Homo sapiens: one gene and its partners. The protein of the gene in region 1 interacts with the protein of each later gene in a pairwise test. Each region holds a gene or a part of one and is shown on either strand. Other genes may lie near its edges.

Region 1 (3,751 bases):
TGTGTAAGACTCCTGACTCTCTTGTAAAGGAGCAAGGTTTTTAGGCTTGGACAGATCAGGATCCACCCTGCCTTCTCCTTGGGGGTCATAAGAATGAACATTCAGTGGGCAGGTGTCCTCGCTGACCCTTAGTTGGAGGCCACAGTCATCTTTAACATCTAGTATGTTGACAGGTTCTATGGTTTCCAACAGAGGAGAAAAGGAATTGCCTCTGCTCCCTGCCTCTTGACTGGCTTCAGGCAAGGAGGAGGCATCCTCAGTCCCCATGATAAGGAGATTGCCTTGGCATGTGGGTGGAAGGGTTTCTTTGGAAGACCCCAGTGTGGAATCACCACTTTCTAGCAATGGGAAGCAACCTTCTGCCCACAGATCACTGGGATGCCCTACGGTTTCACAGCTCTGTTCTTGATTTTCTTTGGACCTCAAGGGTGGGCTGTTGGCCCTCAAAGGTCCTGGCAAGCTGCAATAGTTTCTCTTTTCTAGGGCAGCTGCCGCAACTGTGCCTCCACAGGGAATCACACTGCTCTCCGTATCCCCAGGTACTAGGGTTTCTCCAGGACCCAGGGAAATGTTGCCCCTGGAGCCCAGTCCCTGGCAGCCTTCCTGATACTCAGTTACACACTTCTCAACTTGGAAGCTCTCTATGACCTCCTCTATTTGTACAGGCAGCTCCAAGCCTACAGCATCCATCTCACTGCTCAGCCAAACTCCTGGGCTGAGACAGACATCGTCCCTCTCCCCAGCTGCTCTAGGGGAAGGATTCTGATCATAACTCTGAGCCATGGGGGTACCTCTGTCATCTCCCCACATGGCTCCTGAAGAGCCTTCCCAGGGCACTGCTAAAGGCTCCTTCCCTTGAGGAAGCACTCCACGACCCCCTGTTTGTTGTCCTTTCTGCAATCCCAGGACTTGCTTTTCTAACCCTTGTCCTTGCAGAGGAGCCAGCTCTGCAAGTCCAGCATCCAAACTGGGAGTGCTCTCAGGCTGGAAGCCTCCCTGCCAACAAAGGGGCAGAGCCTCTGAAGTCCTATCAGCCACCAGGCAGTGCCCAGGAGGCCCAGCGCCTCCTAGATGGCCATCCTGATGTAGAGATACCTGGTTTATAACCTTCCCAGACCCTCTCCTCTCCACACCCAAGGGTCCCGGAGTTCCCTGTGGAGCTGCAAGTTCTGGCTGCAGGTCCCAGCTGCTGGGGGATGGCAGAGTGTTCCCATCCCTGTGCATCCCTCTGGGGCTATCTAGGGCTTGCTCCTGCCCACCATGCACTTCTCTTGCCCGTTTTCCTGAAGAAGAAACCTTTCCAAGGCAAGCGGCGCCCCCAGCCCCCTGAAGCCCAGGTGAGGGCCGAAGCCGCCCATCCCCATCTTCATCCTCAACAGAACCAGAAGGACTTGAGTCCAACTGAGCGCCACTGAAACTTGGAGGCGCCTCTGCATCTTCCTCCTCTTCCAAGGCCATGAGTCGCTTCTGGACCAGCTGAAAGAAATGAACAAATAGTCAGTTCTATACGTGGTTGTGAAAGAGGTGGCTGAGTGGGTGGCACAAGACGGTATTTGGGCAGGGCAAGGAAGGCAAGCAAGTAGTTTAAGCGATGGTAGCAAAGACAGATACTGCAGCTCTTTCCCACCTTCTTGTGCCTTATTCCCATGCTTTGAGCCCTTACATTCTCATTTCCTGTGTTTCCATAGCCCTCTACCTACTCGTTCTGCACCTGAAGCCCAATCCTGAAGCTGTTCATCTCTAGAGCCATATCACCCACGACAGTGTAGGGTTAGATAAAATCTTGCAAGCTTCTCGTTCTCATATTTCCTATACCCCAGTTTTACCTGGGCAAGAGTGAGTCCTTCTTCTTGCTCTAGCTCCTCAATTAAGGCCAAGGGATCTCTCTGTTTTTCTGGGGACAGCAGATCTGCCAGAAATTGAGGGTGAATGACAGCCTCCACCTGGATAACAGAAGGAAAAGCGATGTAAGTCTGTAAGCAGGTAACCTGTGAAACAAGGGGCTTTACAGAAGAAACTAAGAGCTCCCCAACTCTCCCCTCTTACCCCTCCGGTATTGTAAACTGACCACCACCGGCTACACACATTCTCATGATGATGCATGCACACACATTACTCAGTTATAGAATAAAACCTAAGTCCTACTGCATTGGACAAACCCCAGATCATTAGTTCCCGGGAGTACCCACCCCAAGGATCTGCTAGAAACAAGATGTGCAGGCCCAGCTCACCTTGGAGACAAAGACCTTCTGAGAACACAGCTCATTGATGTAGCTCAGGAGACCTGGATCTGGATACATCCCTTCCTCCTCCTGCTGCTGCCCTTCTTCCTCTTGTTTTCCATCTGACTCCCCAGTGGCCAAGTGAGTCCCCACCAGCCATTCCATGATGTCAACATACTCCTTCACAGCTTCTGGTGGGATCTCCTTGGGTGCCTCAGGAGCAGGAGGTCTCTGGGCTTTACGCTGACGCCGGCGGGGGGCCCGTGTCTTGGAGGCTGCCTTCTTCGGAATGTACACTAAGGGAAGAGATGGACAGGAGAATGGGAAGTAGCACAGAAACCACAGATTCTGCCTCCTTCGGAATGTACACTAAGGTAAGAGATGGACAGGAGAATGGGAAGTAGCACAGAAACCACAGCTTCTGCCTCCCAGCTCTGTAAGCTCAGCAATCTGGGTACATTGAAATGGTTCCAGGCTGGATTGGGCCAACCTGAAAAAGCGCCAGCCATGGGAGATTTAGGACCTAGAGGGTCTAAGAATCACTGTATGAGGAATTTTGGAATCCCTGAGATTCCAAGAAACCCCCTAATCCAGTCCCCATTTCTTAGGCAGATGAGGTATTATGTGCTGAATTTAGAGTCTCGGTGAGAGTAGTCAGTTTACTTCACCAAGATCAATACCTAGTTCAGGGCAAAAGGAACCTGAGAACCCAGCCTCCTATGGGGTGGTCTGTTTGGAATATCAAATGCCACTCTCCAGAGGGAAAGTGGCAGAGCCTGGGCTATGCCTTCTCTAATCTGTGACTGGCTTCTGTATGCATCCCTTTGAGCCTTTGGCCCACGGCTCCTGTCAAAATTGGGTAGCCTCACCTGGCTGCTGGCAAACCTCAGAGGCCAGGGGCCCTAGAGGATCAAGTTTCAAAGGGGTTGCAGGAGACAGGCCCTGAGACCCATTCATCAGCTGTGTGTTCTGAATCTGCATCTCCTCAGCCTCAAACTCCATGAACCTGCAGAGGGTGAGAAAGGCATAGGCAATGCTGAGAAGGAGACCAGACCCATCAGAAATCCAGACGACAGCCAAGCATGGCCAAGAAAGGAAGTGCTCTCAGGTGGGCAAAGTCTGCCTAAGTCATGTCACCCAGGAGGGTGGTCACAGGTGGCTTAATCGTATTTCCAGGGAAACTTCAGGAGCTCAGCACATAGTTCCTTCCCCTATAGTCATAACTTAGGAAGCTTAAGAAAATGAATGGCCAGGTGGGGTGGCTCATGCCTATAAACCCAACACTTTGGGAGGCTGAGGTGGGCAGATTGCTTGAGCCCAAGAGTTTGAGACCAACCTGGGTAACACGGCAAAAACCCATCTCTACAAAAGATACCAAAAAAATTAGCCAAGAGTGATGACGCGCGTCTAGTCACAGCTATTGTGGGGCTGAGGTGGGAGGATCGCTTGAGCTCAAGAGGTGAAGGCTGCAGTGAGCCATGACAGTGCCACTGCACTCCAGCCTGGGCAACAGAGTGAGATCCTGCCTC
Region 2 (3,751 bases), on another chromosome or scaffold:
AATTGCATGTATACAAAACTTTTTAATGAATCCATTTAGTAACATTATTCCCTTCTGATAATTAGCAAACAATAGGATAAGGAAGTAGCTGTGTATCTACAAACACATGAGTAATTAGTGGTACAAACAAAATTATAATCCAACCCTTCTTTATTTATTTGCACTTGATCTATTAAAATCTTTGCTATCCACTCAAATTTTGTGCTTTTATAGGTGGATAATAGAACATGGCAAGTTGAGATTCCCAGTTTTATTTCCGGCTTTGCAATATTTTCACTGGGGTTTGGGCTTATAATTTCCATTCTCCAAAACTTCACTTCTTCTCTTGTTAAAACAGAATGGTAATTTCTGCCCCTTCCTTTCCTCCTTTGCCAGGGTGATGGTTGTGGTTAGAAGCACACTGGGCTCCTCAGAGAAAGATGCTTTGGGAGCATTAGAACAATTCAGCATCTCCTTCTGAGATGCATTGAGAGTCATGCAAAGAGGCCAGCAGGCCACGGGTAGCTCTGCCAATGCATGGGGCATCTTGCAGCCAAAGTGGGTACAAACAGGTGGGCACAAACAAGACACAAGATTTATTGGGTTTCCCAAGGGCCCTGTGGGAATCCAGTCTAGAGCCAAAGTCTAGAGTCCCTCTGCGCCATACTTCTTTGCTCTGGGTCTAGGCCAGTTAGGAGATTTGAAAGATCTAGTGGAGCCAAGAATGAATTAGCTTCCAATTCTCTGGGGAAGAATAGGTTGGGTCCTTTTGCAATAGGCTTTGGCTTTCTGGACTTCTCTTTCATTGCACTTATCATATTTTGTTGTAAGTGATAATTTAATGTCCTTTTTCTCCATTAGACTCTAAACTCTGAGAGGTCAACCTGTAGCACAGTATCTGGTACATAGTAGATGTTCACTGAAGATTTACTGAATGGATGGGTGAAAGAATGAATGAATGAATGAGGCTTCATCTTCGCCATATATACCATCACAGTATCCCAGAGCAGCCATCTTCATGATCCCTTGGCCTAAGAGTTTTAAGTTCCACTTTGCTTCCCAAAACCCTTTGCACCTTCAGATCTACCAGGATCAAGTCAGTCTTTTAAAAAAATACCAGGTAGTCTTCTGGGAGTGAGGGCCTTGCATCCTCCTGTGTGTTGACATGAGGAGTTATTCAGGAGATCCACTTGCCCATCCTGTGCAGCAGTGAAGCTGGAGGAAACCTTGGTGGCACTCCCTGGGGCCAGTATTTGTTAATCCCTATTTTATATTCCCTGCTCTGATTTCTTCCAGGCCCAGATAATAAGAGGATGGCCAGGAATGTCTTGAAATATGAAAGGCTCTTGGCAGAGAGCCCCAACCACGTGGTAGCTGAGGCTGTCATCCAGAGGCCCAATATACCCCACCTGCAGACCAGAGACACCTACGAGGGGCTATGTCAGACCCTGGGTTCCCAGGTAGGATTCCTCAGGGAAAGAGAAAGGGGGAGAGGCCTGGCTAGAGTTTGAGAAGCTAGAATTGGGATAACATGAGGGGATAGAGCTGATGCATTAAAAACAATAAAGCTCACTTGGGCAGCATCAGAGTGACCACATTCTGTATCTCTTGCATTCCAATTTTTTTATGCCATAGTTCCCCTAAGTTGAGTTTTGCTCCTAGACCCTTCTTCTCTTATGCTCATCCTATTCTTTCCTTCCAGCCCACTCTCTACCAGATCCCTAGCCTCTACTGTTCCTATGAGACCAATTCCAACGCCTACCTGCTGCTCCAGCCCATCCGGAAGGAGGTCATCCACCTGGAGCCCTACATTGCTCTCTACCATGACTTCGTCAGTGACTCAGAGGCTCAGAAAATTAGAGAACTTGCAGAACCATGGGTGAGTGTCCTGAGAACCCGCCAAGAATTTCTCTTTCATCTTCACATGCCTGGAGTTCAGGAGTGTAAGAATAGGCAACCTGAACAACTAGACACCTCAAAGAGCCAAGGAGTTCAGAATGCCAACCATTCCATAAAACTAGTCCATGGTGGAAAAAAATCACAATAGTGCTTGCCTCTAGAGGGAAAGGATTAACTGGATGATGTACAAGAGGATTCTCTGGGGTATTGAAAATGTGCTCTCAATATCTTGTTAGGGACGTGGTACATGTGGCTGTATGCATTTGTCAAAACTCACCAAATGGTCCACTTGAGACCTGTGTATATCATTGTATGTAAGTTTAACCTAAAAAAAGACAAATAAAAAAGAACACTTCAAAAGTGTCAACCATTCTATGTAATTGGTAGAGGTGGGGAAAAGGGTGAAATGACAGCGGCAAGGAGTAAAATCCTAGCACAAATTTACAGAGTTAGAGTAGAAAGCTAAACTTCATTATTTTGTTAAAAAGGAAACCGAGGCCCAGAGAGGGGAAGGGACTTGTTAAGCTCATACATGTAGCTAGAGCCACAGCTAGAACTTAGAGGTACAGTAGTCCCCCTTATTTGCAATTTTACTTTCTGTGGTTTCAGTTATTCTCAGTGTAGTACAATAAGATATTTTGAGAGAGAGAGGTCATTTTCCCATAATTTTATTACAGTATATTATTATTATTATATTTTATTGTTAATCTCTGTGCCTCATTTATGAATTATAAATTATAACATATAATTATAAATTAAACTTTGTAATTCAGTTACAATCATTATTATAATTTCGTTATAAAAAGAACCAAAGGAGGCCAGAATGATCAGGGCTAGCGGGCCCAACGAAGGTGCAGGGCTTCAACTGAGTCTCCAAAGATGGGCAGAATGTGGCGAGAAGTGTTGAGTGAGTGTGCTTTGGGAAAGGGACAGTGACTAGGAAGCAGATATTCAACACAAGCCACTGAGGCATCTGTCTTCAGTTTCCATGGGGGAGCCACTACCATGTGAGCCCAGGGCTGATTCCTGGGAGAGCCACAAACCAGACAGGCATCAGCAGCCCCAGAGAGATGCTTCTAGGGGAAGGAAGTGTGCCAAGGTCTGTGCATGCCAAATGGACGACACGGCCATGAATGACTAAATAGACATCTCTGGGTGGGTCACTTCTCCCATTACCATGGCAACAGGGCTGTTTTAAGGAAAAATTTAGTTATAATGTAATTATGATTATAATTAAATTACAATCATGATTAAATTAAATTACAATCATGATTAGATTAAATTTTGATTGAAGCCATCCCACTGTCTTCACTTGGAGACCCAGCCTGACAGAGCAGCCTCTGTATGGGACATTGCCAGTCTCATGGAAGAGGAAAAAGACAAATGGCAAACATGAGCTGGTTCATAAAGCTTCTGCATGGAAGTGCCAGATGTTACTTCCACCCATGTTTCACTGGTCAGAGCAAAGCATGTGGGCACTACTGCAGTTAACAGCAAGGTTCTAATTCTTCCACAGGGAAAGCACTGCAAGTCACCAAGCCAAGCTGGATGTCAATGGGAAGAGGACATTTAATCCTCCCCCTAGGAAGTGTGCTAAATATTAACAAGAAAAAATGCACCTCTATAAGCATGTTGCCTCTTTAAAGATATTGTCTCAGAATTATTTCTGTCAAGCCAGACATTGTGCCCTTAACATGTGCAGTTCATCCAGGCAGCCATTAGTCATTCGTCAACAGAATAGAGCCCACTGTGTGCCAGACACTGGCCTGGGTGCTGGGCTTTTACAGTGAGATGAAGTATTGGTTCTTTCCTCTTGGAAACTTAGTGCACAATGGAGAAAAACAAATATTTACACTACACTATGATACATGCT
Region 3 (3,751 bases), on another chromosome or scaffold:
GAATTAACTGGTAAAACTAAGTAGATGGCTGAACATGCAGTGATCAACTACACCACTCCTTTGACAATAAGAGTATGACATATTCTGATCTTCTGAAGCCTCATCAAATTTCCAAAACTCTGACTTTTCATATGTTTTAAAGTCATTTTGTCAGAAAGAGCTAAATCCTAAAAGCAAGTCAGTGTTTTCACAGTCATGTTTCTTATTCCAAAGATTTACAATACCTCAGACAAAAGTTGAAGATTCCATAGTAATTCCTTGTCTAGCTCTTCATCATTTAATACATCATCATCTAAAAACAGCAAAATACTATTAGGGGGAAAAACCTATGCATTCAACTAAATATAGCATTTTAAAATACTTCTATTTAATATTTCCAATAGCTGAGGAAAACCTCTTTTAGGAAGACTTTTTATTTCTTCTTCATGAAGCTGAGCTTGTTCCAAAAGGAGGTAGAAACAGAATTTTCAAGAAAATAAACACACCAACCAAGACTTCTGCCCCTCTATATCTCACAAAATAACTGATATTTTTGAAGGTAACCTCTGAATGGTGGTTGTATAAGAATATTAATAAAGTAACATTTTTAAGCTACTGCCAACCTGGATGATATCTTTTTTGGAGACAAATTTTCCCCAAATTGCCAATCAAAATATTGTGAAGCTAAAGGAATCTGTTGTCATTAACAGAGTTTTAGAAACCAAGAAAAAAACTTATCCAAAATTGTAAAGAGAGAATAATGACCTTATGACTTACTCATTGTAAGCTGAGTTATAACACTGCAGCAGTGGGGAACAAAGAGCTTCAAAGATTCTTCTGGGCAGCACTGAAAATGTATTTGTATAAGTAAGGCTTTTTTGAAAGGCAAATATATACAAGATTATATTTTCAGTGGCAGTAAAAGGCTGTAAATAAGCAGCTACTGAAAGAACTATGCATTTTAAGCATAGAAGCACCTCTAATAATTAACCATATAAACTAGTTGATTGTTGAGTCATTAATACATCAGTTCAAAAAAATAAACTCACCTTTACAGCAGCGCGGCACATGTCTGCCACCATGCGACCTGCTACTCTTGTTTCAAATATATGTGAAGTAGAAAAATTAAAAACCTTCTGAAGGGCCACCTGTTAAGATATGAAAATGTTTAATGAGCATTTTTTAAGAAAATTAAACATCTTACAGAACATAAAAGAAAATGATAAATATATTTAGACAATTCCAAAAATAAGCCCATAGGCAATTTTTAACCATCTGATTTTATAAGAATTTGTTTAATGATGTTACATTCAGGTCTAAGAACAATCTTTGCCCACGATCCTAACTTGAACAAAATATTTTAGGTACTGGCTGGATGTGGTGGCTCACACCTGTAATTTTAGCACTTTGGGAGGCTGAGGCAGGAGCATCACTTGACATCAGGAGCTCAAGACCAGCCTGGCCAACATGGCGAAACCCTGTCTCCACTAAAAATGCAAAAATTGACCAGGCATGGTGGCGCATGCCTGTAGTCCCAGCTGCTCGGGAGGCTGAGGCATGCGAATTGCTTGAACCCGGGAGGTGGAGGTTGCAGTGAGCCGAGATCGCGACACTGCACTCCAGCCCAGGTGACAGAGTTAACAAAAAAAAAAAAAAAAAAAAAAAAAAAAAAAATTGAGGTACAAGATTTCACTTGCCACAGAAACCCTACACATAAAATTATACCTGGTGGAAGCAAATGCAATTTAATTGTCTTTCTGGCTAATTGAATATAACAAAGGGAATTTTTTGGAATACCTAATACAATTTGTCATCCTGACAACTACAAACTAGACATCTATCCTTACCCTAAAAGAACTGAAGCAGTCTGTTTATTTTACAGTCATGTCACAAAACTTTAATTTACTTGCTCAATGGAAGAATGAGTTCTATACCTGGGTTAACAATACTGAAAAGTATAAACAACTCTTTTTGGTTAAATAAGAGATGATTTGTGTTCATTTCTTTATACTAACATAATCATAGTATTTATTTCACACAGCTATAAGGCAGTTTGGCTTCTAGGATTAACATATTTAACAGTGATAATTACAGATGATGGGAGAAGAAACAGAAATGAAAATAAAGTGTAGTCTTAAAGGCTACAGATAATAGGTACCACATTACAAATAATAGGTACCAACCAATATTGAATTAGTGAATGCTTACTGAATGTCTTATGAAGATAACTACTTCTAATCCATCAGTTAGTCTTAGGATTTAATTTCTATCATGGGAGTGATGTCATAAGCAATTTCTAAAACTCAGCTGAGTAACTGTTTTTAATTGTAAAATTAAAAAATACAGTTGTTTCTTTTTTTTATTTATTATACTTTAAGTTCTAGGGTACATGTGCACAACATGCAGGTTTGTTACATATGTATACATGTGCCATGTTCCTGTGCTGCACCCATTAACTCGTCACTTACATTAGGTATCTCTCCTAATGCTATCCCCCCTGCGACAGTTGTTTCTTGTTGTTCATGGTAGTCATGTTCTATAAATTTGCTGTGACCACTGAACTAGCAAATACTGAACCATTGCTCCCAGGGGAAATACAGGATTATGTTCCTGTGAACCTATGGTGACAACATTTTCATCAACTGATCAATACATAATCCTAAGTGTGATTCTGTTTACAGACAACTTATTTAATACATATTGTTGATTCACTAACATTTAATCCGCAGTCAACAGCAACATAACTCATGCCTGTTGACGCTTACCTAGCACAGTGTTTTTTCCATTAGGCACAGCACAACTCTCTTATGCTTAGGAACCCTCAACCACTTTAAACAATAAACTCTTGGGAGCCATTTTTGACATTTTTAAACAGCAGAATCACCAATAAGAAGCAAAAAAATGTAAAAAAGTGGCATTAAATAGATCGCAAAGGGGACAGTTGTTTAAGTGGAGCTGGATATAAGACGGCAGAGTGCCTCGTTTGCTCTCAGCTGAGAACACATGGCATATGTGAGATCAAATTTAAGTAACTGAATTTTTGTCAGTCGCAAAAGCTTGATTCTCAGGTTGCAAATAGTTAGAGCAAACAGGTAAATTTGCAAATACGAAATTTGCAAATAATGAGCAACTGTACATTTCTTTAAAACTTTAGTATGAATGTAAATGATAAACTGCATGATATACACAAAGTAACTTGAAGTCAATTTTAAAACATCAAATGAAACTTAAAAGCTGGAAGTTTATTTTTTGCAGCAATGTTCTTACCATAAATATTTCTTTGGAACATTGGGTGAGGATTGTACTAAACGTAGAAGACAGACCTAATTCGACCAAACTCTCCAAGTGTGTCATTTTCTCAGTTTCTGTCTCTTCTCTTGTTTGCTCCAATGTGCTACTTTCTATAAGTCCAAAACATCTAAATAATCCAAACAAAGCATAATTTCAGCAACTAAAATCTGGTTTGACATTTTTGGTGGTCATCAGGTAACTCTCTATTGTCCTAATTATTCAAGTGATAGCTACTTAATTTCTACGTGGTTCACAAATCGATTATCCTTTTATAACTTCAGGAGCACCAGTAGTAGCTAAATAAAGGTTATAATGCAGAAATAAACTAAACTTTCTGGGATAGAAGAGTCATTTTCTAGAATTTCAGCTAAACGTTGGTGTGGGTTACAAGCTCACCTGTCCATAAACTGTAAGACGAAATCCTCAAATTCAGCTGTGGCTGAACAAAGTTCTCGTTCCACCTATAATATCCCAATATGGA

What was found.
Region 2: the proteins of NUTM1 (region 1) and P4HA3 interact in binary tests that used the Homo sapiens proteins (3 or more experiments, as listed by UniProt).
Region 3: the proteins of NUTM1 (region 1) and PSME4 interact in binary tests that used the Homo sapiens proteins (3 or more experiments, as listed by UniProt).

Annotation. Positions count from the first base shown.
Region 1 is NC_000015.10:34,353,213-34,356,963, reverse strand, and holds part of NUTM1 (NUT family member 1), read right to left. Parts: intron 3,229-3,751; coding exon 3,092-3,228; intron 2,519-3,091; coding exon 2,232-2,518; intron 1,944-2,231; coding exon 1,827-1,943; intron 1,477-1,826; coding exon 1-1,476. UniProt on the Homo sapiens protein: Plays a role in the regulation of proliferation. Regulates TERT expression by modulating SP1 binding to TERT promoter binding sites.
Region 2 is NC_000011.10:74,283,916-74,287,666, reverse strand, and holds part of P4HA3 (prolyl 4-hydroxylase subunit alpha-3 isoform 1 precursor), read left to right. Parts: intron 1-1,275; coding exon 1,276-1,439; intron 1,440-1,681; coding exon 1,682-1,858; intron 1,859-3,751. UniProt on the Homo sapiens protein: Catalyzes the post-translational formation of 4-hydroxyproline in -Xaa-Pro-Gly- sequences in collagens and other proteins.
Region 3 is NC_000002.12:53,922,293-53,926,043, forward strand, and holds part of PSME4 (proteasome activator complex subunit 4), read right to left. Parts: intron 3,732-3,751; coding exon 3,667-3,731; intron 3,398-3,666; coding exon 3,247-3,397; intron 1,128-3,246; coding exon 1,029-1,127; intron 827-1,028; coding exon 757-826; intron 293-756; coding exon 225-292; intron 1-224. UniProt on the Homo sapiens protein: Associated component of the proteasome that specifically recognizes acetylated histones and promotes ATP- and ubiquitin-independent degradation of core histones during spermatogenesis and DNA damage response.